Regions from separate parts of the Homo sapiens genome. Here regions 1 and 2 are each linked to region 3. The links come from fine-mapping of genetic effects on plasma protein levels. A gene starts in region 3. Each other region holds a variant in brackets. All regions are shown on one strand. Distances are between the middles of the regions. Region 1 overlaps ANXA3 (annexin A3). Region 2 overlaps ANXA3 (annexin A3). Region 3 holds the start of ANXA3 (annexin A3).

The links. PIP is the posterior inclusion probability: the model's chance that the variant is causal. Protein levels are from antibody-based Olink assays in UK Biobank. Linkage for the fine-mapping came from a reference panel and not from the study's own genotypes, which makes the PIPs less certain.
Region 1: its variant is fine-mapped to the plasma level of the ANXA3 protein (UK Biobank, PIP above 0.99). The variant lies in the coding sequence of ANXA3. If it changes the protein, the assay may bind it differently, which can mimic a change of level.
Region 2: its variant is fine-mapped to the plasma level of the ANXA3 protein (UK Biobank, PIP above 0.99).

Annotation. Positions count from the first base shown.
Region 1 is chr4:78,574,039-78,584,476 of GRCh38, forward strand. ANXA3 (annexin A3) reads left to right here. Exons shown (of 13, transcript NM_005139.3): 4 at 4,989-5,083; 5 at 8,139-8,252. Among named protein-coding and RNA genes, the nearest start is that of ANXA3, 27 kb to the left of the region's middle. The variant G/A (reference allele first, on the strand shown) is at 5,043.
Region 2 is chr4:78,605,135-78,615,572 of GRCh38, forward strand. ANXA3 (annexin A3) reads left to right here. Exons shown (of 13, transcript NM_005139.3): 13 at 4,922-5,313. The coding sequence ends at 4,981. LOC124900721 (a long non-coding RNA gene) reads left to right here and starts at 9,659. Exons shown (of 2, transcript XR_007058152.1): 1 at 9,659-10,438. The variant C/A (reference allele first, on the strand shown) is at 4,300.
Region 3 is chr4:78,547,595-78,558,032 of GRCh38, forward strand. ANXA3 (annexin A3) reads left to right here and starts at 4,176. Exons shown (of 13, transcript NM_005139.3): 1 at 4,176-4,265; 2 at 6,842-6,894. The coding sequence starts at 6,880. RefSeq lists enhancers at 4,541-5,292, 4,596-5,795.

The DNA.
Region 1 (10,438 bases), 26 kb after region 3:
TGTGACCATCCTGTATTAGTCCTATCTAACCACCACCACCACTGCCACCAACAACAGTAATAATTATCATAATAAATCATTACAAATATGGCCCCCTTGGTTGGGCATGGTGGCTCCTGCCTGTGATCCCAGCACTTTGGGAGGGGGAGGCAGGAGGATCACTAGAGCCCAGGAGTTCAACACCAGCCTGGCAATATAAGGAGGGCCCTTCTCTACAAAAAAACTCAAAAAATTAGCTGGGCTTAGTGGCTTGGGCTTGTGATCCCAGCTACTTGGGAGGCTGAGGTAGGGGGATACTTTGAGCCAGGGAGGTTGAGGCTGCCCTGAGCTGTGATTGTGCCACTGCACTCCAGCCTCGATGACAGAGTGAGAGTCTATTTCAAAAACAAAACAACAACAACAAAAAAACCCAACACAATCCCGTCAGTTCTTCCTGGATTTCACTCTTGCCCCTTTCCCTAGAGATAAACACCATCCCAAATTAGAGTTCATTCCCATGAAACTTTTAATACCATAACTACATATACATGTACATATTGTTATGCATGGTCTCAAACAGCATAAAATGAAATCATACTGTATACATTCTTCTGCAATATGTTTTTGTCTCTTAACATTATGTTTTTGAGATTTATCCATGTTGATATGGTGAGCTCTAGTGCATTAATTTTAACTGCATGGTAGTCTATTGCATCACTATATCAGAAGATGGGAATATTGATGGAACATTTAAATTGCCTACAATTCTTTTATATTGCAATATAAAAATGCTGCAATGAATATTCCTCTCATGTCTCATTGTGCATATTTGCTAGCATTTCTCTAGAATATGACAAGAACTGGAATTTCCACATTGATGGGGATGCTTCTCTTCAAATCAACTAGAAATTTTGCCATACTGCTCTCTGAAATGAATGCAGAAATTAGCATTCCTTTCAGCAATGTACAAGACTTCCTTTTGCTCCATATTCTCACCAACACTTGCTATAGTAAGACTATTCCATTTTTCTAATTAAGTGTGTCTAAACAGTATCTTATACTGCATGTGTGTTTGTTTCCTGTCTCTACTCCAATGACTGATGCAGTTAAGCATCCTCACTTGTGCATCTGCTTCCACTTTCATATGTCAATAAAATATAAAATATATTTTATCTATTTTTTTCAGTTGGTTTGTCTTCTTTATGATTGGCAAGAGTTTTTTTATAATTCCTCAATACAGACTTTTTAAAAAATATTACAAGCCATGAAAATATTTCCTATAAGTTTATGGTTTTTTTTTTAACATTGGTGACATGGTTTGGCCCTGTGTCCCCACCCAAATCTCATCTTGTAGCTTCCATAATTCCCACGTGTTGTGGGAGGGACCTGGTGGGAGATGACTGAATCATGGGGACAGGTCTTTCCCGTGCTGTTCTCATGATAGTGAATAAGTCTCACAAGATCTGATGGCTTTATAAGGTGGAGTTTCCCTGCACAAGCTCTCTCCTTGCCTGCCACCATCCACGTAAGATGTGACTTCTCCTCCTTCCCTTCCACCATGATTGTGAGGCTTCCCCAGCCACATGGAACTGTGAGTTCTCCATTAAAGAGTTCCTTCATAAATTGCCCAGGCTAGGGTATGTCTTTATCAACAACGTGAAATGGATTAATACAATTGGTTACAGTAATTTTTATTGCATAGAAGTTTTAAATTTTAGTGAAATCAAGTTTACCAATATTTTTGTCCAGGATTTATGCTTATTGAATCTTTTCTATAACGAAGTCATAAAGTTAGATATTCTCCTACTTTTTTTTTCAAAGTTTTGAAATTTTATTTTTCGTATTATGATCTTAAATCTACATGGAATTAGTGTTCATGGATGGTATTTAAAGGTGTCTCATTTTATTCTATTTCATGTGGACATTTAATTGTCCCAGAACAATGTATTGAAGAGCTCTTCCTTTTCACACTGATTTGTACGTAATATCACCTATGTTTTATGCTTCCCTATTTTTCTCTTCTCTGTTATGCTTCATTTATCTATTTGGCCCTCCCAACACCACATTGTCACAATTATTAGGATTTTATAATGACACTAAATATCTACCAGGCAAGGTCTTTCTTGGCTCTTTGCCCTCCTCTATGAATTTTAAAATCAGCTTGTCAAATTCAATAAATATACTATATTAGAACTTTATATCAATATAATATTATGTTTTTTCTGCCTGTTTGAGGTTTATTTTTTCCATTTTTCAATGTAAGTTATTTCTTCATTTATCTCTTGATTTCCTTATTTTTTTTTTAAGAGAGAAGGGCTTGCTCTGTCACCTAGGCTCGAATGCAGTGATATGATCACAGCCCACTGCAGCCTCAAACTCCTGGATCCTATGGCCTCAGCCTCTGGTGTTGCTAGGACTACAGATGCTCATCACAATGTGTACCTAATTTTTAAATTTTCTGTAGTGACAGGGTCTTGCTATGTTGCCCACGCTAGTCTTGGACTCCTGGGCTCAAGTAATCCTTCTGCCTTGTCCTCCCAAAGTCCTGGGATTATAGATGTGAGTCACTGCACCCAGCCTGATTGCCCTATTTATATCTAGTGTTGAATAGACTGTTTCATGAGGTTAATAGTCTTTAAATTCTGTCACCTCTTTTTAAACATTATGTTTCTTCATGAATTTGCACTTTGGCTTACAGGCCTTCTTTAAGAAGGAGGTTATTGTTTATGAGCACCACTTCTGATAGGTTCTGAGTTCAGAATGAGGTATCATAACGGTGTTTGCATTAGGGATGGGTCAGACACAGTCTCTGAACCTGAGGCATCTTGGCTTAGTTTTTGATCTTGGGCATGTTTAAAAATAAGAGATGAGAAACTGCCAGGCATACAAACTACACATAACTGCAGGTAGTTTGGTATAGTTGTAGTCTAGGTGCATAGGTTATAGAGATGCAGAGAGGGGGTAGAAAATGAGAACAAAGACATAAGGCAGGAGAGATCATAATGAGCTGATACATGAGCTAAGGGGCTTAAACTTCATCCTGAAGATTACAAAGAGCCATTAGAATTTTAGCCAAGGGGGTGACATGATCAGATTGTATTTTTAAACATTTACTTAGGCAGTAGTTTACAGGAATAATTATATGGGAGTCACATTAGGAGGTGATTTAGGTTATCCAGGTAAAATATGATAAGGACACAGGAGCAGAGGGCATGCAGAGGAGACGACAAATTTAAGAGATGCAGATAATTGCTATAATATAGAGAATAAGATAAAGAAAGGAATCTGAGATGATTCCCAGGGTTTTTGCCTGGATGACTATATCCATAGTTGTGGATGAGGGAACATAAAAAGAAAGACAAGTCAGAGAGGAAATACAATAAATTCCACCCAGAATGTGCTGAGTTTCAGATACTTGTGCAGTTGTGGTGGCCGGTAGTGTACTGACACAGATGCTGGGTACAATACACAGCACCAAATTGGTGCTCAGACCCACAGAGCACAAATACACTTTAATCTGATTCGGTATTTATTTAACTATGTGTAAGAATACAAAACCAAAGACACAGAAAGGCAGCATCTTTCATTGGGAGGCCCAGCAGCTAACCAAGTACACAGAAGCTTTTGCTTCATCATTGATGTAAGCTGTGTACCACTGCCACGGAAGTGTGTAGATGAGGTCTGTGAGGGTCACCTTGACACAAAGAAGTTGAGCATTGAGTTCCAGGTGCTCTTTTATACCTCTCTAGTCATGCATGCTCTAGGCCTGCAAGCCAATTCACAGCTTCCCAAACCAGGTATCATCGTGGGTTGGGAAATTAATTAGACACAACTTTCCACGTTTTTCTTACTACTGTAGTCACCAAGATAAGAATGACCTTGAGGTCATTCTTAGGCAGGCCAGCATCAGCTCTGGCCTGATGTTACCTTTTGCTTACAAACAATTCATTTTGTATATGGGTTTGAAATTTATGAGAGAGGCCGGGTACGGTGGCTTACCCCTGAAATCCCGGCACTTTGGAAGGCTGAGGCGGGTGGATCACCTGAGGTCAGGAGTTCGAGACCAGCCTGATCAACATGGTGAAACCCCATCTCTACTAAATTAAAAAAAAAATTAGCTGGGCATGATTGCACATGCCTGTAATCCCAGCTACTTGGGAGACTGAGGCAGGAGAATCGCTTGAACCCGGGAGGTGGTGGTTGCAGTGAGCCGAGATCGTGCCATTGCACTGCAGCCTGGGCAACGAGAGAGAGAGAAAGGGCGAAGGGGAGAGAGAGAGCGAGAGAGAGAGAGAGAGAGAGAGAGAGAGAGAAAGGGAGGGAGGGAGGGAGGGAAGGAGGGAGAGAGGGAGGAAAGAAGGAAGGGAGGGAGGGAGGGAGAGAGAGATGTGGAAGAAATGCATGAGAGAGATGTGGACCAAAGATAGAAATATATGTTTTGGGGTCAGAGATTTGGGTTCAACTTCTTGCTGGACCACTCAGCAGTTGTGTGACTTTGGCAAGGAAGATAAGTTCGTGTCTTCATCTTTAGTACAGCGGGCCCCTGTGAATATTAACTATGGCAATGAATAAAAGGGTGTTTCATGCAGGGCAGATTTTCAATAAGTGTTGGTTCCTGTTTTCCAGAGGAAGAAATATTTTGATATCAAGTATGGGAGAGAGATAAAAGGCAATAAGACAGTAACCAAACCTCATAAAGGTAAAAAAGTCAAGTTCAAAAGTAGTAGGTTGTTTTGTCTGATGTACAGAAAGGAGTATTTAGACAATGATTGTTTCCTTCCCCCCAAAACTATCCAAATAAAGTTAACTTTTTTTTTCCAAAACTCAGGCAAACAAAATAAATAAATAAATAAATAAATAAATAAATAAATAAAATTCCAACCAGATAAGATGCTAGAAATTAAAATGCCTTACTCTCTGCATTTGTCTCAGGCCATTGATCATTTTGCTTTTGTTCAAGACAAATGTTGAGCATAAATATTGAGTAAAATAACTTTTGTTTCATTTAGGAACTGATGAGAAAATGCTCATCAGCATTCTGACTGAGAGGTCAAATGCACAGC[G/A]GCAGCTGATTGTTAAGGAATATCAAGCAGCATATGGAAAGGTAAGGTCACATTAACATGACAGGCAGTAAAGAGATCATTAATGTACCATGGTCGCTCCCACATGGTTATGCCCACAGTCTTCTGTTTCAGGCTGAGTGTAACAGAAGATGCCCTGTGCATCCAGTCAGGAGCCTGGAATCTGAGTCGTGGTTTTGCCTTGAACTAGCTGACTGGCTTTGGGCATGTTACTTGGTCTTTCTGGGCCTCAGTTTCTTCACCTGTAGGATAAGGTTTGCCTTAGCCCAGTGGGTTCTAAACCAGAAGTGATTTTGCTCCCCAGGGGACATTTGGGATGAATGGAGACATTCTGATGATCACAAACAGGATGGTGGGGAGTACTTCTAGCATGTAGTAGGCATAGGTCAGGGATGCTACAAGCATCTGAGAATGCGCAAGGCAGCCCTCCACAACAAAGAATTACTAAGGAAACTATCTGACTAATTCTGTCTTAGGTAACCTTTTATTTCTCTTTTAATTTTAAAATATTTATGTAGTTATAGGTTTAATTCATTCAGCAAAGAAAATTTAGTAATTACCAGAAACTATATAAGAACAAGTAACTTTGGGAGGCTGAGGCGGGTGGATCACCTGAGATCAGGAGTTTGAGACCAGCCTGGCCAACATGGTGTAACCCCATTTCTACTAAAAATACTGAAATTAGCCTGGTGTGATGGCACATGCCTGTAATCTCAGCTACTCGGGAGGCTGAGGGCTGAGGCAGGAGAATTGCTTGAACCCGGGAGGCGGAGTCTTCAGTGAGCCGAGATTGATCCAGCCTGGAAACAGAGCAAGACTCCGTCTCAAAAAACAAAATAAAAAGGAAAAAGTAAAAGTAAGACTTGGTCTTTGCTATACAGTTTATTTGTCCAATGTCTATTTCTGAGTACTAATCTGTGTTAGGAGATATCCTAGACATTGGAAATAGACTGGTATAAAAAGCACATCCTGCCTTCTTTCATGGAGCTAACATTCTATTAGAATATAATAAACAAGTAAATAAAAATAATTCAGATATGATAAGTGATATGAAAGAATTAAAATGGTTGATATGATAGACAGTGACTGGTGACTGGCTCCTGCAGATAGAGTGATGAAGGAATGTCAGTGAGGGGTTGTTACCTCACTCCCCACTAAGCCTAAACAATACTAGGGGTTCTGCCCTGCTTGATCAGGAGATAGTATTTAAGGTACAGAAAATATAAAAGCCCTGAAGCAAAAAGAAACTGGGAATATGTGAGAAATAAAGAATTCCAATATGGCAGGAATGTAGAAAGTGAAGGGGGCAGAAGAAAGAGATGAGGCTGGAGACAGGTTGAGAACATGCTAAGCCTTGGGTCTTGGTAGGGTTTAGATTTTATTCTAAGGGCTACAGGGAACCACTGGAGGTTTGTAAGCAGAGGAATAATATACTGCAGTTTTTATTTTTAAAGGATTATTTTGGCTGCTGTAGATAATGAACTGTGGGGGGAAAAGGTACAAACAGACCCGGCCAACTGTTGAGAGGGTCTAGTGACCATCCACAGGCACCTCAGGAATTACCTCCTGGGAGTGTTCTCCAGGCCCCCAGGCTCCATTAAGACACCCTTCTCTGAGCTCCCTTTATCAGATAACATATTATATTGAAATTTTATCTTTGAATATTTCTGTTTTTCCCATGAGGGCAGAATGCCTTAGGATAAGGACTTTGTCTAACTTACCTTTAAAGGACTAGCACAGAGCAGGTGCCCAGAAAACATTTGTTGAATTGAGTGAATTGCCTAGCTTCAGGGCAAGACAACACTTTCACATACAGAGAAGGTGAATGATCTATTGGCCTTTTGGTATTTCCAAAATATGGAAGAAAGATGGAGGTGGAGGGGAACAACCATTTCTCACAGTGGAATAGGATGAGAGCTGTGAAATAAGATTCAGCTGCAGTGGCTTGGATTGAGGACAGATGGTAGTGAAATTTACCATTTAGAGAGGAAAAAAACACTGTGGCAATTAAAGCAGAGTTGATAACACTGAATGCCACCCCATTTGTTTCAGCAGGAACATGCCACTGCTGCACCCCCCAGGAGTGTGGTTGTGTCAATCTGTGCCCACAGCGTTTCAGCAGGCTCAGAGGCTACCAGCCTCTATTTCAGAGCTGAAAATAATCAGGAGCAGGAACAAACATTATTCAGTATTATGCCATTGAATATTGAAAATAGAAACCCTGTTACCCCCCTTTAAGCAGGGGAGATGGACTGTACTTAGGTGTGAAAACAGTGCTCAAAACAATATCAATAGGTAATGTCTGTAAGAGGCTAAATTCTAGTGTTCCATCGCCCTGTAGGATAACTATAGTTAACAATAATATAGTTTCAAATAGCTAGAAGGAGGATATTGAATATTCCTAAAACAAAAAAATGTTACATGTTTGAGATGATGGGTATGCAATTACCCTGATCTGATTACCATACATTATATGTATTGAAACATCACTATGTACCTTATGAATAAGTACAATTATTATTTGTCAGAAAAAATAAGTCTAATGTATTGCCACACTTAGGGTTTTCTTTTCTTTACTTGTTGCCAGAAAATTGCTTCTGATGCCACCTAGTTCCACATTCTCACCAGAGACAAATGACCAGCCACTGTCCTCCCTTCCCCTTCCTCTTGGAGCTCTTTGGGAGTTACTGAGAGGCAAGACACCGAGGAAGAGAGCACCTCCCACTGAAGCTGGGCGTGAATTTATAAGGGTTCCTCTTCCTCTTCCCTTACCCCAATCTAAGCATTGAAAGCATGGCGGATCTAGGAAATGCATTTGAATACAGTTCCTAACTGTGGCACTCATGGAATCCTCCCATTTGGCTCTCCTTCAAAAAACCTCTACAAAACAGAACAATTTGGGAGTAATTAGAAAATGCAGATTAATATTCATAGAAATATTTTCAACACTTCTGTTTATTCCCTGTGGATGGACATGTTTTGTCTGATTTTGATACATATGTTCATCTTTCACTAGGTGACTTTAGAGAAAGAGAAAAAAAGTATTTCACATTTTTCCCCTTGGTTTTTTGATTTTAGGAGCTGAAAGATGACTTGAAGGGTGATCTCTCTGGCCACTTTGAGCATCTCATGGTGGCCCTAGTGACTCCACCAGCAGTCTTTGATGCAAAGCAGCTAAAGAAATCCATGAAGGTATGAGCCCCCCACAAGCCATTTCTGCCCAGGGTTTGACCAAGTCATCAAAAATAGTGACTTTCTTGCAGTGCACACTTGTGATGGGTGGACTTGGATGCCCTTTTGGTCTGGACTCTCCCAGTGGTAGAATGACTCTGAAATAGGCAACAGCTATAGAACCTTAAGCCCAAATGTTCCTGGGCTGGAAGAATTTTGTCATATCCTTTGTTTGACATGAAGAGTCAAGTTCTCTAATTTGTCATCGTTGAAAGTAAATAGCACTATGATTAACCCCAACACTCAAGCTAAAAACCTAGCATTATCCTTGAGCCCTTGTTTTCTCTTACCCTTCCAAGCTCCCAAATCTATCAGCAAGTTCCTTAGTTTTACTTCAAAATCCATTATAAATATGTGCACTTCTCTCAAAATCCATTGCTACTGTTCTAGTCTGACCACCATCATCTCTTGACTGGTCCATATCAATAGGCTTCTAACTGGTCCCTTTGCCTCCATTTTTGCCCATCTCAAATTCATTCTACACAGAATAGCCAAAATTATTTTTATTAATTTATTTTAAAAATCAGATTATGCTACTTACCTGCATAAATTTCCAATGGCTTTGTACGCTTAAAATCCAAGCTTCTTATCATGACTTTCATCACCCAACATAGTGCAGCTCCTGTCTAACTCTGTGGCTTTTTAAAATTCTATTTATATCAGTCAGGGTTCCCTCAGAGAAGCAGAACCAATAGGCAGGACATAGACTTTAAAAGATTTATTGTAAGGCCAGGTGCTGTGGCTCTTGCCTGTAATCCCAATACTTTGGGAGGCCAAGGTAGGTAGATTGCTTGAGCTCAGGAGTTTGAAATCAGCCTGGGCAACTTGGAGAAACCCTGTCTCTACAAAAAATAAAAAAAAAATTAGCTGTGCATAGTAGTGCATTCCTGTAGTCCCAGCTACTTGGGAGGCTGTGGTGGGAGGATCACCTGAGCCCAGAAGGTCAAGGCTGCAGTGAGCTGTGATTGTGCCACTGCACTTCAGTCTGGGTGACAGTGAGACCCTGTCTCAAAACAACAACAACAAAAATTTATTGGAAAGAATTGGAGGCCATGGTGGGAGGATTGCTTGGGCTCAGGAGTTCAAAACCAGCCTCAAACTGAGCAACATAGTGAGAACTTGTCTCTACAAAAAATTTTTAAAAATTAGCCAGGCATGGTGGCTCATGCCTGTAGTCCCAGCTATTTGGGAGGCTGAGGTGGGAGAATCACTTAAGCCCAGCAGGTCTAGGCTACAATGAGCCATGACCGTGCCACTGCACTCCAGCCTGGGATGCTGTCTCAGAAAAAAAAAAAAAAAGAAGAAGAAGAAGAAGAAAGAAGAATTGGTTACATGATTATGGGACTGGTTAGGCAAGTTCAAAATCTGTAGAGCAGGCTGTCAGGAAAGGCAGGCTGGAACTCTTGGGCACAAGCTGAAGCTGCTGTCCACAGAAAGAATCTTCTAAACAGAAGCCTTGCCTCTGGTCTTAAGGCGTTTCAACTGATTGGATCAGGTCTGCCGAGAAAGGTAATCTCCCTTACTTAAAGTGAATCGATAATAAACTGAAATTATATCTACAAAATACCTTCACAGCAACACCTAGATTAGTGTTTGATTGAATAAGTGGCATTATAGCCTGGCCAAGTTGGCACATAAAACTGACCGTCATACCCCCTCCTGCTCACCCATTAATGATGTAGCTACACTGGCCTTTTCTCTGCTCCTTGAACATCATAAGCTTATTCTTGTTTTGAGATCTTTATACATGATGTTTCTTCCATCTGGAATGCTTTTCCTCCAGACATTTTCCATTAATTCACTCAAATATATTTTCTTAACTGCACTTATTACTGTCTAAAAGTATCTTGTCTATTTATTTGTTTTTGAGACAAGGTCTCGCTTCATTGCCCAGGCTCTAGTAAAGTGGTGCAATTATGGCTCACTGCAGCCTCAACCTCCCTGGCAAGCCTCCAACTTCAGCCTCCTGAGCAGCTGGGACTGCAGGCACACACCACCACACCTGGCTAATTAAAATTTTTTTTTTTTGTAGAGACAGGGTCTTGCTATGTCACCCAGACTGGTCTCAAACTCCTGAGTCAAGCAATCCTCCTGCCTCGGCCTCTCAAAGTACTGGAATTACAGGTGTAAGCCACTGCACCTGGCCT
Region 2 (10,438 bases), 58 kb after region 3:
ACATTTTTTAGAGATGGGGTCTTGCTGTGTTGCCCAGGCTGAAGTGCTGTGGCTGTTCACAGGTGCGATCATAATACATTGTAGCCTAGAACTCCTGGGCTCGAGCAGTCCTCTTGCCTTAGCCTCCAAGTAGCTGGGACTATAGGTAAACTTTTGGGTTTTCATAATCTGATAGGTGAGGAATTGTATCTCAGTGTAGTTGTAATATACATTTTTCTTAGTATAAGTAAGGCTGAATATATTTTCATGTTTGAAATAACATTTGTATTTCTCTTTCTGTGATCTGTCTTTTTACATTCTTTGTCCACATTCTTTTGGGTTTTTGTTCTTTTTGGTCAGTTTCTAAGACGTTTTTCACATAAGGTAGATTAGCCTTTTGTCTGGTCATATTTTCCCAGTCCGTTCTTTGTCCTTTGACTTGGCCAAAAGTATTTTTTTCCAAGCAGAGGTTGCACATCTTATTTAATTAAATTTATCAATCTTTCACAGTATTTTAGTTTTTAAAAAATCTGGTCCCTTCTGTTTCTTTCATTCTGGATGAGAATCTTCCTAAAATGGGCTCCTTCCTTTCTCTTTTAAAGCATGAAACCCATTTTCATTGTTTTCAGATCTCAGTTGATATATTATACATAGAAACTTCAAATAAATTACAAATTATTTGAATTAATAGGGCAGTAAGCCTGACAAAAATTGTACAAGAGGCTTCTGTACCTTAAGCTCGTGGTTCAAAAGTCATAGTCCCAACAGGAAGATGGCAACTAGTTAGTGGAGAACTAAGGGGCTAGCCCCACACCTGCTCAGTAGCCTTCCATTGATTTACTTTTCTACCTTGATGCTCCAGACCACATATGAAAGTCTCTAGTAAATGAGTGATAGAGAGTGTTAGTCCAAGCTGGTTCCCTGGAACAAAGTGGAAGCTGGGGTTGGTGAGTGGAGCAATCCACTGTCCTTGCCTCCAAGGCCACACTGACCAGGGGAAAAGACAGAGTCAGGGCTGCCTTCGCAGAGGACTTGCAGGCTATGCAGACCTCTCCGTCTCTTTGCTACTCCATCTACCCTTGAATGTCTCGAGGAAATCAGCACTAGAGAGTATTGGACCCAGGTGAACTCTCCAAGGTCTAAGCTGAGACTTGGGGCCTAGAAGGTGATCCAGGATGAAGAGGGAAGCAGCAGCCAAGCAGAGTGTTTGCTCTGAGTGCTGAGGGTCTAAAACTGGGAATGGAGTCCATGCTGATTAGACCCCCTAAGCTGTGGATCATTATGCACCATGCACATCCTGATCCTGGGTAGCAGCACCCTCTCTCAAGCCCCTACAAGGCTGGAGCACTACCTCTGTGGGGGAGCTTACACTCAGCGATGTCCCCTGGGGACACCTGGCTTAGACCACATTCCAGTGTCCCTGCCAGCAGCTGGAGTCTTTGGTCCAACCTTCGCTATGGCCCTACCCACAATAGCCACCCTTGAACAGGCACAAATATTAGCCTGGGTCTTTCTGCAGCTATCTTGGGAAGGTTTCTGCCTCTGACTTTACAAATGGCCTTTGAATGAATGAATGAATGAATGAACATCAATCAGTCAACTAGATTCATTCACTAAAATCTCTCTCTCTCTCTTTTTAATCAGAGTTTTTGTTTTTGCACTAAACTTTTACAGAAAGAGATGCTGAGATGCATGCATAAGTTGAAATCAGGAACTTACTCAAAAAGGCAATTCTCAGACTGTGCCTGGGACTTAGCACAAATTGCATCAACTGCTCACACTCAATTCTATTTGAATCAGTCCTGACACATCACAATAGTTTCAATCATCAGAGGAAGATTCAATAACATTAACCATGTTGTAGCTACTAAGGCAGAAAAATAGACTCACACATTTTCTAAAGATTGTCAGTAACAAGGTTGAGACATAAAGAGGGCTTTCAGTTCACCCTCAGCAAACCAGAAAATTAAATTAACCAGTGGCTCTCCGTTCCCCAGTGGTCTGGGTAATTGAGGCTTATTGTATTAGAAAACATTTAAACTATTTGTAGTTTGATAGAAAAGAAAAATCCATCACTGAAAACTTCAGTTTGCAGTTTGAAATAGTACAAGATTTCTTTATTTCTACCACCTAACACATATTATTAAGTAATCTCATTACATTTTTGCTATTGAAGAACAGGATCTTTTTAGATGGTTGTTTCTGAAATTCATGGGATAGAGTTCCATTTTGCATATCATCTCAGCCTGTCATCCTGCCTGTTTTCTTCCTTCCACCTATTGTTTAGACATTTCTTTGTCCATTGACACCTTTCTCAGGGGGTAACCGGTGGGAAGGAGAAGGCAAGGAAGAACAGAGGTGAAAAACCAATGTGTACCTCTTACTACTTTATAAGAAGATATTATGGAAAATTTAGATGAAATTATATTTTTTGGTAGTTTTCCTTCATAGACAAATTCTGTATTTATTTAATAAATAGCACAATTCCAAGCTTTTTATGGGAAAATATAGTAGCCACTCACAATCAACTCATAATCTATGTGGAGACTTGAGGTAGGTATGAAGAAACAATTAGAAGATAATAATTGAAACAACAGACAATTAAATACTAGATTGTTGAATATAGAGCTAGTACTATCGGAATTGAGAAGAAAAGAAGTTTGGGGTTAGAGAAATGGGTCTTGAGCCTGCCTTTCAGGTCAACAAGCATGTGTTGAGTGTCTCCTGTGGGCCAGGTGCTCTGCTGGAGCATTTACCTTTAAGACCCCAGATCAATAGGGTCTTAAAAGTAAATGCTCTAGAGACAGATATGGGAAGAAGCAAGAGGGAAAGAAGTAATAAGGCATTTGTTTGATTAGAGGGTCTACCTTGGGGAATATTGAGAAATAAAATCCAAGTAGCAAGATGAGTTCAGTTGAAAGAGAGCTTTGAGATCAGCGAATTCACTCATTCAATTAAAAATATTATCAAATGCATATTATGTGCTAGGCTCAGGGTTACAATTATAAGCAAAGGGGGTAGGGTGGGGGAAGACATTTTCTGCCCTTATGGAATTACAACTATGTTAAATGTAAAGGAAAGTGACATTGTGCTAAAAGATCCTACAATAGTAGGACTTGACTTAGAGGAAAGGCTTCTATGAGAAAGTCATGATTCAGATCTGGAAAATAAGTAGATATTAATAAGGCAAAATGTATGGAGGTAAGGGAGCCAGTAGAACATTCTAATAAAAGAAATGACAAATGGAAAGGCCTCATGGTGGAGGAAGCATAATGAAAAATGAGGATGTGGGGGCCAGATCATGCAGGACCTTTTTGGCAATGTTTAAGGAATTTTGGCTTTAGCTTAAGAGTAAGGGGAAGCCATTGAAGAGTTCTGGGCATGAGCTCTTGAAGAGTTAGTATCAGGATCATGAAAAGATCCCTGTAAGATCTTCTTATTCTGGAGAATAAGAAGGGCTCAAAAGATATTTAGGAGTTGAAACTTAAGGGACTTGGTATAATATCTTGGTGTGAGGAAAGGAAGATAGCAAGGATGACACTCAAGTTCCTAACTTGGAAAACAGACAGTGGCGCCATTCCTTGCAAGAGGATCAGGTTTTAGGTTGTTTGTTTGTTTGTTTGTTTCCTTTTCTTTTGGGGGAGTGGGGGGAGGTTTATGAGTTTGGTTTTACATGTATTGAGTTTGAGATGTCTTTGAGCCATGTAAGACATGTGGAGAGGTCAAGTAAGTCATTAGCGGTGTAAATATACTTTGAGTTACTTGGATGTATTTTCTTGACTAACTGGTAGAACGCCTAATTGTTTACAACTCTGATCAGAGATGTCTAGAAGGAGCTCTTTTAATACAAAGCTGGAGCATTGTTGACTTGTCAGCTCTGCTATTGCAGAGCAAGACAGGAAAACCAATAGCATAAGAACTAAAATCTATATAAAAACGAAGAATATTGTCATATATTTTGTGAAACAGACAAATGAACAAGAAATAAAGAAAACAGAAAAATATATATAAAGGCCTATTGTGTCTTACTATGAAAGTAATGCTTAACTTCTTCACTAAATGAGCCTTCTCTGAGACTTCCTTTATATTACCACTTTCTCTAATATTCACCCCAGTAACAGCCATTCCAAATGTGAAACTTAAGTGATAAGAAGAGCTCACTGGTTGGGTTACCTCAAATAAAATAAAAATAATGTGAGCATCTTACACAATCCAGGTTGAAAGCCAAGTTTTACCTCCTGTGAAGTCTTTTGCGTTACAAACTTGGTATCTTTGCCCTTTAAGCCTCAACCTCACGTAGTATCTTTTCTGGACAACAGT[C/A]TATTTTTGGTTGGCCTTGGGAAAAGGAACTGATAAACATATTCTTTAAAAATGTGGTTCATTTCACTTTCCTAAGTTAGGCAGTGTAGCAGGGTATTAAGGAGCCAGGATATAGGGATTCAAATCCTGCTTTTGTCACTTATTCTCGATAAGATTTGAGGCAAGTTTCCTAACCTGTCTTTCTCATTTTACTTATCTGTTAAATGGGGGATACGTATAGTACCTATTGCAGAGAGCTTTTAAAAGGGTTAAAGTAGTTAATACACATTAAGCCTTTTGAATAGCAAGTGTTCGATAAATATTATTAAAACTAAAATTTGAAGTTTTTATAGAAATCAATATTATGTAAGTGATGCAATCTTATTTTATTAAACCAAAATTGAAATTTAACTGCAGTATATCAGGAAGAATCTAAATATTACTTACAGTGAAGAAGATGCTGGTCAGAACGTAATTACACTCAGGTATGAATGAATGATGGAATTGCAGGTATGTTTTACTAAATGGTATAGCTCATGAGTCTCACACCCAGGTGAATTCCCTAGTGCTATAGGATTTGATTCATTTATGGTCTCCCATTATTTATACTGTATTTGTTCTTCATTGATTTTATTCTTTGCAGTCGGATACTTCTGGAGACTATGAAATCACACTCTTAAAAATCTGTGGTGGAGATGACTGAACCAAGAAGATAATCTCCAAAGGTCCACGATGGGCTTTCCCAACAGCTCCACCTTACTTCTTCTCATACTATTTAAGAGAACAAGCAAATATAAACAGCAACTTGTGTTCCTAACAGGAATTTTCATTGTTCTATAACAACAACAACAAAAGCGATTATTATTTTAGAGCATCTCATTTATAATGTAGCAGCTCATAAATGAAATTGAAAATGGTATTAAAGATCTGCAACTACTATCCAACTTATATTTCTGCTTTCAAAGTTAAGAATCTTTATAGTTCTACTCCATTAAATATAAAGCAAGATAATAAAAATTGTTGCTTTTGTTAAAAGTAATTTCTTTGTTTGCTTTCAGAGCTTGCCAACATTGTTTGATGCCTGGTGCCAACAACTAATATTTTAAAACATGTTTCTGTATAGAAGCTGTTACTGCTTCAGTTTATCACCTTGTTAATCACACTTTTTTGAAAGAAAGGAATAAGATGAAGATGTATGTGACCCTGGCCTACCCTTTGTAGTTGTGATCAAGCTATAGGAGTGGTAATGCATGATAAGTTATTTCAGCTTTCAGAAAACATCTGCTGAAGGATTAATCTAACCACTTCCTGTCTGAATGGCAAGCATGAATTATGGTTGCTTCATGCTAAATACTACTTTCCCAGAATGGGCATTTAGAATCAAGCCTCTAAGGTTTCCTTTTCTCTTGAGTTGGCAAAACTATGCATTTAAAGAATCCATCATGCCATCTTTGAGTGGGACCTAATATGAAATACCTTGACTGATATGAAATAGATAAAGTGAAAAAAATTCCAGTTAGAGTTATTTTCCTGGACCAGAATAGAAATGATCGTACTGGCCATGTGCAGTGGCTCACGCCTGTAATCTCAGCACTTTGGGAGGTTAGCAGGCGGACTGCTTGAGCCCAGGAGTTTGAGACCAGCCTGGGCAACCTAGTGAGACCCTGTCTCTGCCAAAAATACAAAAATTAGCCTGGCATGGTGGCACATGCCTGTGGTCCAAGCTACTTGGGAGGCTGAGGTGGGAGGATTGCTTGAGTCAGGAAGCTCATTTGGCAAGTTAGTTCTGTAATCAATACTATAAATGTCAGTCATAACTAAGATGATGGCAGGAGATAATGAAAACAACTACTTAAATATTTGGGAGATAAAATTGAGTAAACATGGTATTCAAAGTTACCAAGTGTCAGTCAAGTATGCCTTCACGATTTTAGTGTAAGTGATTTAGTGAGTAAGTATATCACGAAGCAATAAATCAATGTTAATACTCATAGAGTGCTTACTATGTATTAGGTACTATGTTAAACAGTGTAGTATATTTTAATTTGTTAATCCTCAAGGCATCTTACAATGTAGATACCAACACAGATATAGAAATGGAAATGGAAGCTTAGAGAAATTAAGTAACTTGTCACTGTAAGAGCCAGGTAGTCCAACTCCAGTGTCCAGGCTCTTAACCACTGTTTTGCCTTAGAATTTATCCCATCCCAGGGCCACTGTAGTTTTCAATGCCTAGTGCTTAGATTAGAACAGTGCTCAGCACATAAAAGGCATTTAATACAGTGAATCTTTATTTTAGATCTCATTCATCCTCAGAGTTGTTATACCACTTATGTATTAAGTACTTTCTGAAACAAAGCATGGTTACATGTGTCAATATTTCCCCTGTTTTGCAAGTGAGGAAAATGAGACTCAGGTTAGGTATCCAGCCCAGGGTTACACAGTGGCAAAGCCAAGGCTTAAGATCCGGGTCATCTGGACTTTAAAACTTATCTGTGGCTGGGCAAAGTGGCTCACACCTCTAATCCCAGCATGTTGGGAGGCTGAGACAGAAGGATCACTTGAGCCCAGGGGTTTGAGACCAGTCCAGGAAACATCAGGAGACTCTGTCTCTACGAAAAATTTAAAAATTAGCTGGGTGTGGTAGTGTGCACCTATAGTCTCAGCTACTCAAGAGACTGAAGTGGGATGATCAGTTGAGCCCAGGAGTTTGAGGCTGCAGTAAGCTATGATCACACCACCGTACTGCAGCCTGGGTGACAGAGCAAGACCCCGTCTCAAAAACAAAACAAAACAAAAAAACCTTACCTGTGCATGAGTGAGTTTGAAGAAGGTGAGAACTTGAACACAGTAGTGATCACACAAGAGAATTCTGCAGAAAAAAAAAAAGCCCCAATGAGGTAACCCTCTAACCCTTCTACTCACATCTGTTTTGCCTTGTATGCATTGGACTTCAGGCAATTACCTTTCTAAGCCACATATTCCTCGTCTTTAAAATGGGACAACAATAGTACCTACCTCATAAGATTGTTTTGAAAAATAAATGAAAAAAAACACTTAAAAGGTATTCCACATAGTGCATAGCACATGGTAAGCCCTTAATAAATGTTAGCCTGTATCATATAATTATTATAGAGTAGTATTCAATGGCCACATTTTTTATTGCCTCCAATTTCCACAAGGTGGCATGTCAAGTTCAAAGTGAACCCCACGGCCTTGCATCCCAATGGCAAAACCTACTTAACTTGCTTCAGAATAACATGGCCAAATCTAAACTGTTGGAAACTTCTTCTATAGAAGGTTTGTCATGGTTCAGAAATCTTATTGTCACTGTAAACTCCTTCTTAAGGAAACATGTGGAACATTTAATTTAATCATCTGGCTTCTCTGGATTCCCAGGACCATCTTCATTTACATGAATGTGCATTAGCTCTGACATGGATCACCTGCAGAATTGAGTGCATTCATGTCATCTCATTAAGCCCTAAGTTTAGTCCCTGAAGATTGAAAGAAGAGAAAAATAGCCAGCTGCAGAGAGTCCTGGGCTCTGTGGTTGGTGAGCTGCAGAAGCAGAAGGTTTGTACACTTCACGCTACAGTAACAGAATGTTTGGTCTATAAATCAGGAGCTGCAAAAATGGCAAATGAGGATGTTGAATAGGAGATTCTCTAGCCTATTTGTAAGAATGTATTGAGGAAATTTTTAAAATAGTGTACAGTAGTTCAGACATTTCTTCCATGTACCTTCCCCTATTTCCATTTCCCCAATTTCATGCCATATGGATAACCCACAGTTTTACTTTGTCTTTAAAACAATAATTTTGGGGTCATATCAAACTGGGTTCAAATCCTGGCTTCACCACTTATGGCAGCAGCGTAGATAACAGTGCTCGACAAATACTTAACCTCCATACAACTCAATTCTTTAGCTGACAATAACAGCACCTACCTTAAATATGTGCAAGGATGAAATGAAATAAAGCATGTGAAAAATTTAACTCAATAAAAATTAGTTACCAATAACTGCATTGGCATGGTGAGTTGCCAGTGAAGAGCAGATAGTAAGTGTTCAACAAGCATTTGTAGAATAAATAAGCGATACTTGTTTTAGTACTACTCAGCGACAGTAACTCTGAGGCCTTGGAAGCTTCAGAGAACTGTCAGCTGAAATCAGTGTTATTAATATGTTGTCAGTGTGTCCTCCAACGATAAGAGCCAACTGTGTTCACCTCAGTGATGAGGTTACAGGATCTGAAGAAAGTTTCCTAGTCTTATTTCCTGCCCATCAGTTGACAGTAGTATGACATGTGAGGGAGTGAGTCGCTTACTCTTTCTGTACCTTAGTTTCCTCACCTGTAAAGCCAGGATGGCCATGCAAGTATCATTCAGAGTAGGCGTGAGGTTTCAATAAGCCAGATTAGGTGATGCACTTACCACAGTGCCTGCACCCGTTAAGTGCTCAATAAACATTAGCCATTATTCTCTGGCTCAGTTTGGAAGACTTACAATTGCTTATACAGTGCTCTAATCACTTGGGGGATTTTGAGATGTTGTAAAGCTACCTCTTCTAGTTTGCAATTAGGAAAGAAGATAAAGCAAACTTCTTGGCAATTTCCTGCCTGTGAAACCTTGTGTTTTATGAGCCACGGAAAGTACCCCAAATTTTTTTTCAACCCCACCCCCAGCAAACTGACAAACTCAGATCTTTCCCACCCACTCTGTATGTCTCCCGTGGGACTGTGAGAGTCAAGCAAGTACAGGTTGCTGTGTGCTGAAGCCTTTTTACTGGTGCTATATTTCTTTCAGTTTCATCAAACTCAGCTTTGTGCCAGTTTTACCCACCAGGGCCAGCCCTCCTCTGAAACCAAAGTTTGCCTATTTCTGTAGAGTTTACAAAGTCAACAGTGAGAGAGAGGAGAATTTCAAATGAGGAGGAGGGTTACAGAGTAGGAGGTAACATTGAATGGCTGCTGCAGTAAACTGTTAAAAGAAATCCCAAACCCAGAATACCAGAGCAGCCCATTCAGCTGAAAGGTTTTATGACACAACCATGCATAAGAAAAAACTAGCTATCAAAATGTACATGTGACCTCTTTGGGCATAAACTTTGTGGAACTGGATGTGGCAATAAATAGTGGTCCAGGCCAGGCGTGGTGGCTCACCCCTGTAATCCCAACACTCTGGAAAACCGAGGAAGGCAGATCACCTGAGGTCAGGAGTTTGAGACCAGCCTGGCCAACATGGTGAAACCCTGTCTCTACTAAAAGTACAAAAAAATTAGCTGGGCGTGGTGGCAGATGCCTGTAATCCCAGCTACTCAGGAGGCTGAGGCAGGAGAATTCGCTTGAACATGGGAGAAAGAGGTTGCAGTGAGCCGAGATGGTGCCATTGCATTCCAGCCTGGGTGACAAGAGTGAAACTCTATCTCAAAAAAAAACATAGTGGTCCAAGGTGACCTGGCAGAGCATCAGACTTGCTGTGAAGCGACAGATGTGATTTGCCAATTGCTACAATATCAACCACCAGATAAAAGGAAGTTTTGAAAAAGAACATTGGGATAAAATCAGCTCCTACGAAAAAGAGCATGCCACAGTGGGGTAGAAAGTAGAGAAGAACAAAGGTCACAAGGGTAGGGAGTTGGTGAGAATTAGCCCAAATTCACCCCTCCTTTTAGAGAACTGCAGCAATCCACAGCGTAACTGGCTTGCATTGGTGCCCCTGGCCACAGACCTCAGAAGAGTTTAGAGATTTCCAAAGTTGCATTTAAATTTTTTGTTTTGTTTTGTGTCAGAGAGCCAAGTCCACAAAGAAAGTTCCAGATCATGTCTGCAAATTCTATTTAAACCGGTGTTAAATAGAATTTGACATCTGATAACTTCATGAAAAATATTTTTCTTGGTTTTTATCAGTCAAACCAAACTCCTTCCAACCTTTATTCTTCCAACATTTATTACATGGTAACTGTAGTCCAGAAACTACGCCAGGTGTTGGAGTTATAAAAGTGAAGAAAGCTACACATTTCCTGACTTCAAGGAGTTGACGATCTGGGGAATAAGCAAAGGAGAGGAAAGACAGATACTTGGCTAATTGGCAAGGACAGCATAGTGGTGATAGCGGTGGGTGGGTTTGGGGATTAAGCAAATGTGGCTTCCACACAAAAT
Region 3 (10,438 bases):
CCTCCCGAGGTGCGGGGATTGCAGACGGTGTCTGGTTCACTCAGTGCTCAATGGTGCCCAGGCTGGAGTGCAGTGGCGTGATCTCGGCTCGCTACAACCTCCACCTCCCAGCCGCCTGCCTTGGCCTCCCAAAGTGCCGAGATTACAGCCTCTGCCCGGCCGCCACCCCGTCTGGGAAGTGAGGAGCGTCTCTGCCTGGCCGCCCATCGTCTGGGATGTGAGGAGCCCCTCTGCCTGGCTGCCCAGTCTGGAAAGTGAGGAGCGTCTCTGCCCGGCCGCCATCCCATCTAGGAAGTGAGGAGCGCCTCTTCCGGGCCGCCATCCCGTCTAGGAAGTGAGGAGCGTCTCTGCCCGGCAGCCCATGGTCTGAGATGTGGGGAGCGCCTCTGCCCTGCCGCCCCGTTTGGGATGTGAGGAGCGTCTTTGCCCGGCCGCCCCGTCTGAGAAGTGAGGAGACCCTCTGCCTGGCAACCGCCCCGTCTGAGCAGTGAGGAGCCCCTCCGCCCGGCAGCCGCCCTGTCTGAGAAGTGAGGACCCCCTCTGCCCGGCAGCCACCCCGTCTGGGAAGTGAGGAGCGTCTCCGCCCGGCAGCCACCCCGTCCGGGAGGGAGGTGGGGGGTCAGCCCCCACCAGGCCAGCCACCCCGTCCCGGAGGGAGGTGGGGGTTAGCCCCCCACCCGGCCAGCCGCCTTGTCTGGGAGGGAGGTGGGGGGTCAGCCCCCCGCCCGGCCAGCCGCCCCGTCCGGGAGGTGAGGGGTGCCTCTGCCCGGCCGCCCCTACTGGGAAGTGAGGAGCCCCTCTGCCCGGCCAGCCGCCCCATCTGGGAGGGAGGTGGGGGGGTCAGCCCCCTGCCCGGCCAGCCGCCCCGTCAGGGAGGTGAGGGGCGCCTCTGCCCGGCTGCCCTTACTGGGAAGTGAGGAGCCCCTCTGCCCAGCCACCACCCTGTCTGGGAGGTGTACCCAACAGCTCATTGAGAACGGGCCATGATGACAATGGCGGTTTTGTGGAATAGAAAGGGGGGAAAGGTGGGGAAAGGATTGAGAAATCGGATGGTTGCCGTGTCTGTGTGGAAAGAAGTAGACATGGGAGACTTTTCATTTTGTTCTGTACTAAGAAAAATTCTTCTGTCTTGGGATCCTGTTGATCTGTGACCTTACCCCCAACCCTGTGCTCTCTGAAACATGTGCTGTGTCCACTCAGGTTTGAATGGATTAAGGGCGGTGCAAGATGTGCTTTGTTAAACAGAGGCTTGAAGGCAGCATGCTCCTTAAGAGTCATCACCACTCCCTAATCTCAAGTACCCAGGGACACAAACACTGCGGAAGGCCGCAGGGTCCTCTGCCTAGGAAAACCAGAGACCTTTGTTCACTTGTTTATCTGCTGACCTTCCCTCCACTATTGTCCTGTGACCCTGCCAAATCCCCCTCTGCGAGAAACACCCAAGAATGATCAATTAAAAAATAAATAAATAAATAAATAAATAAATAAATAAATAATAAAAAAAATAATAATAAAATGTGAAATAATTAGGAAGTGGTTAATTTTGAGTACCTATTACCTTTGCTTTTAACGTAATTTATTCAATTGTATTTATTTAACTTGTAATAATGTCTACATTAATACTGGCTGTGAAATAACTGAAAATTCAGGAACTGGCTTTCACATGCTGGTATAACCCAGCTCCAACACATCACTGTAACAGCAGCTATGTATTCAACAGCCACAATCACGTAGTCGGTCTTTCCTTCACATTTTACCATATGTTCTAAATATATCTCAATAACTTTGCTTTAAAAATTTGTATTTGGCTGTTAAATTGTTCTTTTGATCAGGATGCTATAGGAAAATTCCCTTTTTACTAACCTGTAAAGTTCTGTGTATTCAGAATAATGAAACTTTTATTAAATAACCTTTTCTGAATTCTTTTTCTGGATAACCATAAACCTGGATTCTAACAGCATCCTCTAATATTTCCTTCCAAGAAAACTCATCCTTTGGGGAAAAAATAGTTTTATAATATGCCATAGCATGTTTCTAATATAAATGGTGGTAATTGGGCTGTTGATACAACTAGAAAAACTCAAAAAATGATAAAAGTGCATTTGTTAAAGTTACCATCAGGAAATCAAAGAAGTTAAATCCTGAATGGTTTAAACAATTAAAATAAAGCCTACATGTAAAACATCACCTGTTACTCATTTTCTTCTGGCTATAAATCTAGCCCTATGACTTCCTAGTTGCCTGGAATACAACTCGTAGAACTTACTGAGTCCCTCTGAGCCTGTGTCTGTATCTGCAAAATAGAGGCAATCATACCTAATTTACAGCTAGTTGGTAAGCATGACATAGATCACGTACGTCAAGTGCATTACCCAGTGTCTGGCACAAATAATAATAAATATTTTCCCCCATTTCATGCTAATCTCAGAATTTTTTGAGGTAACATGGGATTTAACAGTTTATTGTGGTGAAGTCTGAATGGGAGTCAGGAATTACTATGCAGAACAGAATGCAGAACACCATCCTATCTTCTCTCTTGCAGAAAGCCCATCACTTCGGATTTGTAGATCTGAGAGGGCTCCCAGGGCACTGGCCTTTTAAGCATGACCACTTCTGCCTTCTCCGTTGTAGCTCCTCTTAAACCAGTGGTTCTCAAACTTTAGGATGCATCAGAATCACTTGATGGCGCAGGGTTTCAGGGAATTTGCATTTCTAATGAGTTTCTAGGTCCCAGGACTCAGCCTTAAGGACCAAGACTGTAATCTCTTCAACTCACACTCAAGCAGCTCCAGCCATGCTTATCCTCTAAAAATCCTCTGTGCTCCACCTGTTCACCCTACCTCCTCTCAACTCCTAGAAACCAGTGATTTTTTTTACTGTCTCCGTAGTGTTGCCTTTTCTGGAATGTCATATAGTTGGAATCATAGTGTGTAGCATTTTCAAATGGGCTTCTTTCTCTTAATAATATGCATTTAAGTTTCTTCCATGTGTTTTTATAGCTTGATAGCTAATTTCTTTTCAGTGCTGAATAAAATTCTATTGTATAGATGTATCACAGTTTATTTATCCATTCACCTACGAATTACATCTTGGTTGCTTCCGACTTTTGATACTTAGGAGTAAAGCTACTATAAACATCCATGTGCAGGTGTTTGTGGAGGTAAGTTTTCAAATCCTTCGGGTGAATACATAAGGGGCCCAGTGATGACTGAGTGCAAGCAATACTTTTTACTTACGTGGTCTCGGATAAATCACTTCACTTTTCTAAGCCTCAGTTTTCTCTTCTGCAAATTGTGATAAAAATAGCACCTCCTAGAGTTCCCTTGAAGATAAAAGAGGTAAGGTATTCAAGCACTTCAATGCCTGATACTCAATACATGGTAACTTTTTCTACATCCTTCAGCACACAACTGCTCATAATTCCCTCATACGAGTAGGGCTTTAACCTTTTAGCCTCGATGATTTGTTTTGCTCTTCCAAATGCCTAGAATGCCCTTCCAGGTTACCGTCTCCCTGAGCCTTTGGTTGGAATCCTCATACCAGAGGGTCAACACGTTTAGTAGAGGAATTACTGAAATAGTTGGGTTCCAAACACTAGCTCTGGCATTTACCTTCTGTGTAAATTGGCTGAAGTTACCCAACGTCTCTGTATCTCAATTTCCTCATCTATAAAATGGGGATAATAGTATCTACCTCATAGAGTTGTTGTCGGAGCCATTTTAATGGCAAAAACCGCAATTACTTTTGCACCAACCTAATAAATCCGCGCATATTCTTAAAGAAGTTAGAACAGTGCCTGGTACAAAGTAAATGCCAGATCAATGTTATTAATGTTAGGTGTCCGCCACCTATGCCACGCAGTGAGTTCCTTAGGTATAGGGACAGTCTAATCTCCGAATCCACACTGCCTAGAACAAAATAAGCATTGCAGTACATTTGAGAAAGTAAAGGTGTAGTGGAAACCGAGAGCGAAATGAGGGCGTAGGGAGAAAAGGGTGGGGAAGCTTAGAGACCGGTGAGGGAGCAGAGCTGGGGCGCCTGTGTACAGGGATAGAGCCCGGCGGCAGCAGGGCGCGGCTTCCCTTTCCCGGGGCCTGGGGCCGCAATCAGGTGGAGTCGAGAGGCCGGAGGAGGGGCAGGAGGAAGGGGTGCGGTCGCGATCCGGACCCGGAGCCAGCGCGGAGCACCTGCGCCCGCGGCTGACACCTTCGCTCGCAGTTTGTTCGCAGTTTACTCGCACACCAGTTTCCCCCACCGCGCTTTGGGTAAGTTCAGCCTCCCGGCGCGTCCCCGCGAGCCTCGCCCACAGCCGCCTGCTGACGGGTGGCTTGGGGAGGTCGCGGCGCCTCGCCCAGTTCCCCCGCGAGTGCAGCTCGACCCTGGGCAGGGCTGGCGGCTGGCGCCCGCGCCCGGCCCCAACCCAGCTGCGTGGGTGGGGAGCTGGAGGGACCTCAGTCCTGCATTTCAGAGTCGAGGAGACTGGGCCCACGGGGGGGAAAGTGCCGTGCCATGGGTGGGTCACCCAGGTCTTGGTGGGGCCCAAGCTGATACTCAGCTGTCCTCGCTCCCTGAAAGCTTCGCTTATTACAGCTAGCAGCGTAAGGGATCCACTTAGCCATCTCGGCCTCCCCAGTCCTAAAGGTCTAGGGGACAGAAAAAAGCTGGGAGTCGGAAGGTTCCTCGGGTCCCCGGCATGGCAGACGGGGCTGGCTCAGAGGTCTGCTCTGTGGACTTGGAATCGCACCCATCCTGTGAGCATCTTCTCCCCCTCACATAGGCAATTTATTTTATTTTACTTATTTTTTTTAGAAGGTAGAAAACAGTGGATTTGCATATTGAGGGTTGGAAGTTCAAGAAGTTTGCTTTTTCCTGAAAAGACTAACCGTTTTCTTTGCAACAGAATCCTATTGACTAGATATGAATCATTCCCTTGGTATTTGAGTCACCAGGTGGAAGATTTGGATACTTGATTGCAGATGACCATATATAGGAAAGTATGCAGGTGCTGGGAGGTTCTGGGTCGCTGGAGGCCCCTCTGGCTACTGATACGAAATTGCATAGCCCAGGCCGAATTCTTTCCAAGGATTTGTGTTCAGCACTGACAGCAAGACCCTGCCCTCCGGGAAAGATACATTTACTATGTTCACCAACATCATTTTTTAAAATGTAACTAATTAAAACGTTACTCCATGAAGATACCACCTTTGGTTTTCACGAAGACGGAAAACTTCAGACTGACCAGAAAGGGAATTTTTAAATGTAAAGAAAACCAGAATCTTGTTCCCAGAACTCTGTGGTTGTGTAGAGAAACCTGTTTAGAAATAACCGTAGAGGAGGAAGTAAAAGGAAATGATGTAATCCCTTTCAGGAAAGGATATATTGAAATTCTGTTTAAGTCATTTGGCCTTCGCTGTGGAGTAATTCTTTACATCTTAAAAGTTAAATGATAGATTAGTAATAATTCTTAATAATTTTCCAGTTCTGCTGGATCAATGCATATTAAGTGTCAGATTTGGTCAGGTGTGGGCCAGGCAGCAGATTAAGGCAGAAGCATGGGGGTTAGGTTCATACCTTTAGAGTCTAGCTGCCTAGATGCAGTAGGGGTCCACTCACTAGCTGTGTGACTGTGGGACATTACCATACCTCTCTGGGCTCCAGCTTCTTCATATGCAAAACGAAGATGTAATACCTAACTCACTGGATGATTGTGCGGCTTGTATTAAATCATTCATTTAATCAATAAGTTTTTTTTTTAAATATCTACCGTGCACCAGTGCACACAGATAAGAAGAATCTCCAGCCCTGTGAAACTGACCTCGTTCAATGCTGGCAACACCCCCTTCTTCACTTTTTACAGATGAGGAAATTGAGGCCCAAAGAAATTGTGTTTAGCTTTAAGAGGCAAAATGAGAACCAATAATGCCTTGTTTTCACTGTACAGATGGTTTGACTTCTGATTTTTAGACTTCAGAATAGTTTATCTGGCTGTAACCCCTCATAAGTCAAAGAGCATGTATTTAGAGAGATGCAGTATTAGACTCTAACTGGAGAGTTGACTGCCCTAGGCTACAGAGAGCCTGAAAAAACCAAGGTGAAATATTTCCAGAGACTAATAGTGTAATTTCCCATTGAACTTTTCTCTGGGGGTGTCAGGGAATTTTTAGAATATTTTGTTCCCAGGAAGGGTGGGAGCAACTTGCATTTCTAAATCAACCCTGGAGATATGCCAGCATGTTTGAATAATATCTATTTAAGAAAAATGTGTCTGGCTTCCCAATCAAAGAACTGTGCCTTTCACCTCTGCACCCCACCAAGGACTGGACCACCTCCTCAAAGAGCAGATGTGTCTTTATAACAGACTGTAGGCTTGGAGCCTTGTAAAATGTACATGGAGTTTCACAATCAAGCACAAGGAATCCAACTGAAGGCAGCTAAACTTTGTGTTGATTTGGTGAGGAGGAGTAAAATCCTGTGTTTTTGTTGTTATTGATCCCCGTAGTGGTAGCCTGTCAGTAATCAGCAGAGTTCTCCTGGACTTTAAATAAGTCAAAAATTGGCTTTTCAGGAAGTATATTTGTAAGCATCTTAAGTACAAAGATTTTTTTCTGTCTCTTGTCTTGAAGTCCTCACAGGTCTAGCACAGTCCCTTGCATATGGTAGATGCTCAGTAAATGTTTGTTTAGCAAATGGGATACCCAATGTCAGATATATGCTCTTCCTGAGAAGGTTTTTCTGTGAATGTTGACATCTGTTTTCTGGATTCAAGATTAAGGGTTGGACTAAGATTATTGTGTTCTGAATCACATATTGATACCATTTACTAATTGTTTTCTTTTAATAGATTAGTGTGATCTCAGCTCAAGGCAAAGGTGGGATATCATGGCATCTATCTGGGTAAGTAAAAATTAAGCCTTCACAACACAGTAACATATATGAGTCAAACCAAAACACAGAAGGTCAAGATAGCAAGGAAAATTTTAGGAAAGTTTTTAAGTTTATCTGGCAAAATTAACATGCTAGAAAAGCCAGAGGATGTCAAAAATAATAAAATATTTTTAAAAATGCATTGTAAAGTTACATAGTTAAAATAACTTATGATGACACCAAGGCGGAAAGGTCAAAATCAGATAATAAATTTAGTATATAATTTGGGAATTTATTATATGAAAAAGATGACATATCAGAGAAGAAGAGACGGATTATTCAATAAATGTTAGGAAAACTTCTAGCTGTTTGGGGAAAAAGTAAATCTGTATTCCTTTTTCTCCTTACAATAAAATAACTTCCATGTGGATAAAATACAGAAATGAAGAAGATGAAATATGAATGGGCCGGGTGTGGTGGCTCACACCTGTAATCCTAGCACTTTGGGAGGCCGAGGTGGGTGGATCACCTAAAGCCAGGAGTTTGAGACCAGCCTGGCCAACATGGTGAAACCGTGTCTCTACTAGAAATACAAAAATAGCCCGGTGCGATGGCAGATGCCTGTAATCCCAGCTACTCAGGAGGCTGAGGCAGGAGAATCGCCTGAACCTGGGAGGCAGAGGTTGCAGTGAGCTGAGATCATGCCACTGCACTCCAGCCTGAGAGACAGAGTGAGACTCCGTCTCAAAAAAATAGAAAAAGAGAAAGAAATATGAATGGATTGAAGAATATTCTTGGAGTGGGGAAGATGCTTACAACTGTGACACAAAACCAAACGCCTAAAAGAAAAATATTGATCTATTTTAACTACATACAAGTTTATCACTATGACAGCCAACAATCCCATTGGTAGAGGCAGAAGACAGCTCGCAGGGAAAAAATATTTGCAGCACATTAGACAAAAGACTTATTTCCTTAACATACAAATAACTTGAATAAATTGGTTTAAAAAATGAACTTGACAGAAAAAGTTGTAAGGGACATAAACAGGACATAAAAAGAATTATAAATGTCCAATAACATCAGAAGGTGCTACAAGGTTGGACACAGTGGCTCACACCTATAATCCCAGCATTTTGGGAGGCCAAGATGGGAGGATCATTTGAGCCCAGAAGTTCGAGACCAGCATGGGTAATATGGCAAGACCCAGTCTCTTAAAAAAAAAAAAAAAAAACTTTAAAAATTAGCTGAACGTTGTGGGGTGTACCCATGGTCCTAGATACTTGGGAGGCTCAGGTGGTAAGATCGCTTAAGCCCAAGAGGTGGAGGCTGCAGTGAGCCATGTTCATACCACTGTACTCCAGCTTGGGTGACAGAGTGAAACCCTATCTATTAAAAAAAAAAAACTCCTGCATCTCAGAATTGAAAAAAACATAAATATCATGATGAGAAACACTTTTCTACTTAAGAGATTGGTGAAGGTTAAAAAAAAAAAGTAATGTAGAGGATGTGGCAAGGTGATATTTTTATTCTCTGTTCATGGGAGAGTAAATTTGGTACACTTTTGGATAGTATTTTGGCAATATCTCTCAGTCCTTAAATGCACATGTCCTTTAAACCCAGTAATTCCACTTGTGGGTATGTATCTTATAGATAAACTTGCATAAGGTTGAAAAAATAGGGGCCCAAGTACATTTGTTTGTATTAATGAAAACAAACATGCAGACAGCATAAATGTCCATCGATAGGGTAGGAATAAGTAAATTACTCATTTATAACTTACAGGCATTTTTATGTGATCATTAAAATGAATGGGAAAAAAGTGGATCAGCTGTATGTGAATTGACATTAAAAAAGTCCCAAGATGTAATAATTTAAAAAATCAACTTATAGAGTAATATGTACAGAGGGATTCTGTTTAAAAGAAAGAACAAAGAAAATAAAAAATTTACGGAAAGACTATTACATCAAAACTTTGTGGAAAGGTGGAATTGTGAGAAAGGAATTTTACTTTTCAATATATCACCTTCTGTACTGTTTGATTTTTTTTTTTAATCATGAGCATACATTATATTTTATAAGTAAGGTGGAGGGCAAGTTTAAAGAAAAGCCTGTGCAGAGATGTGACCATCCCTTGGCCTGGCGTATGGATGGAAGGTGTGCTGTTGGAAGGCTTTGTTTGGCCCAAGTTACTCCCTTCTCACTGGCTAGGAGGCTAAACTCTCATCTTTCATCTGAAATCCCTGCTGCTTTTATGAACATATCATAGAATCAGATGAAAAAAGCATCTCTCCAAAATGCTGGTGTTAAAAAAAAAAGTCGCCCTCTGGCCCTCGCCCATGAGTAAATTAACATGGAATTATTTGGGCAGGCTCTCCTGCTGACACCTTCAAAGGCGTGGCACATTTCTGAAGGGCTAGGAGAGACCCAAGTGCGTGTGATCAAGGGTGTATTCATTTCCTATTGCACTATGACAAATTATCATAAATTTAGCAATTTAAAACAACATCCATTTATTATCTCACAGTTCTATATGTTAGAAGCCTGAAATGGGTCACACAGCACTAAAATGAAGGTGTTGTTGGGACTGCATTCCTTTCTGGAGACTTTGGGAAGAATCCTCTTCCAAGCCCTTTTAGGTTGTTGGTAGAATTTAGTTCCTTGTAGTTGTCGAATTGAGTTCTTAGTGCTTGCTGGCTGCCAGCAGAAGCTGTCTTTGGCTCCTGGAGGTCTCTGCCTGTCCTTGTATGTGGCCCCTGCATCTCAGAACCAGCAATGATGCATCAAATCTTACTTATGCTTGGAATCTCTTTGGCTTTTCTTTCTGGGGGATCTCTTTTCTGCCATTCTCTTCTCCCTCCAGCTGAAGACATTTCTCTGCTTTTAAGGGTGCGTGTGATTAAATTGGGCCCACCTGGATAACACGGGCTAATCCCTGTGTTTTAAGGTCTGGAACCTTAATTATGTTTGCAAAGTCTCTTTCATCATGAAACACAATACATTGACAATTCCCAAGGATTATGATGTATACATTTTAGGAGGCTGTTGTTCTGCCTACCACAGGGGCTAGGAGTATGGCTACATCAGGGATGGTAGCATTTGGCATCAGATAGCAGGAAAGAGGTGGGGAGGGGCCAAAAACAGGAGGCTAACCTGAGCCTGGAGGGCAAACCCACACGTGGAGAAAGAGGCCCTAGCCAAAGAAGGGCTCCTACTGTCTCTGGGTTTTTCTTTTTTTTTTTTTTTTTTTCCTGTTTACCTCCTCTCCCTCAATTAAAGAACTAATACTTATGAGTGGCTCAGAGAGCAAACATTAGGAACAACTCAGAACTGCTATGGAAAACAAGATAGCAATTCTCCAAAAAATTAAAACTAGAACTACCACATGCTCCAGCAATCCCATTTCTGGGTATATATCCAAAGGAAATGAAAGCAGGATCTTAAAGAAAGGTATCTATACACCCATGTTCACTGCAGTACTTTTTACAATAGCCAAGAGGTAGAAGCAGCCCAGTTTCCATTGACAGAAGAATGAATAAACAAAATGCGGTACACACACACAATGGAATATTAT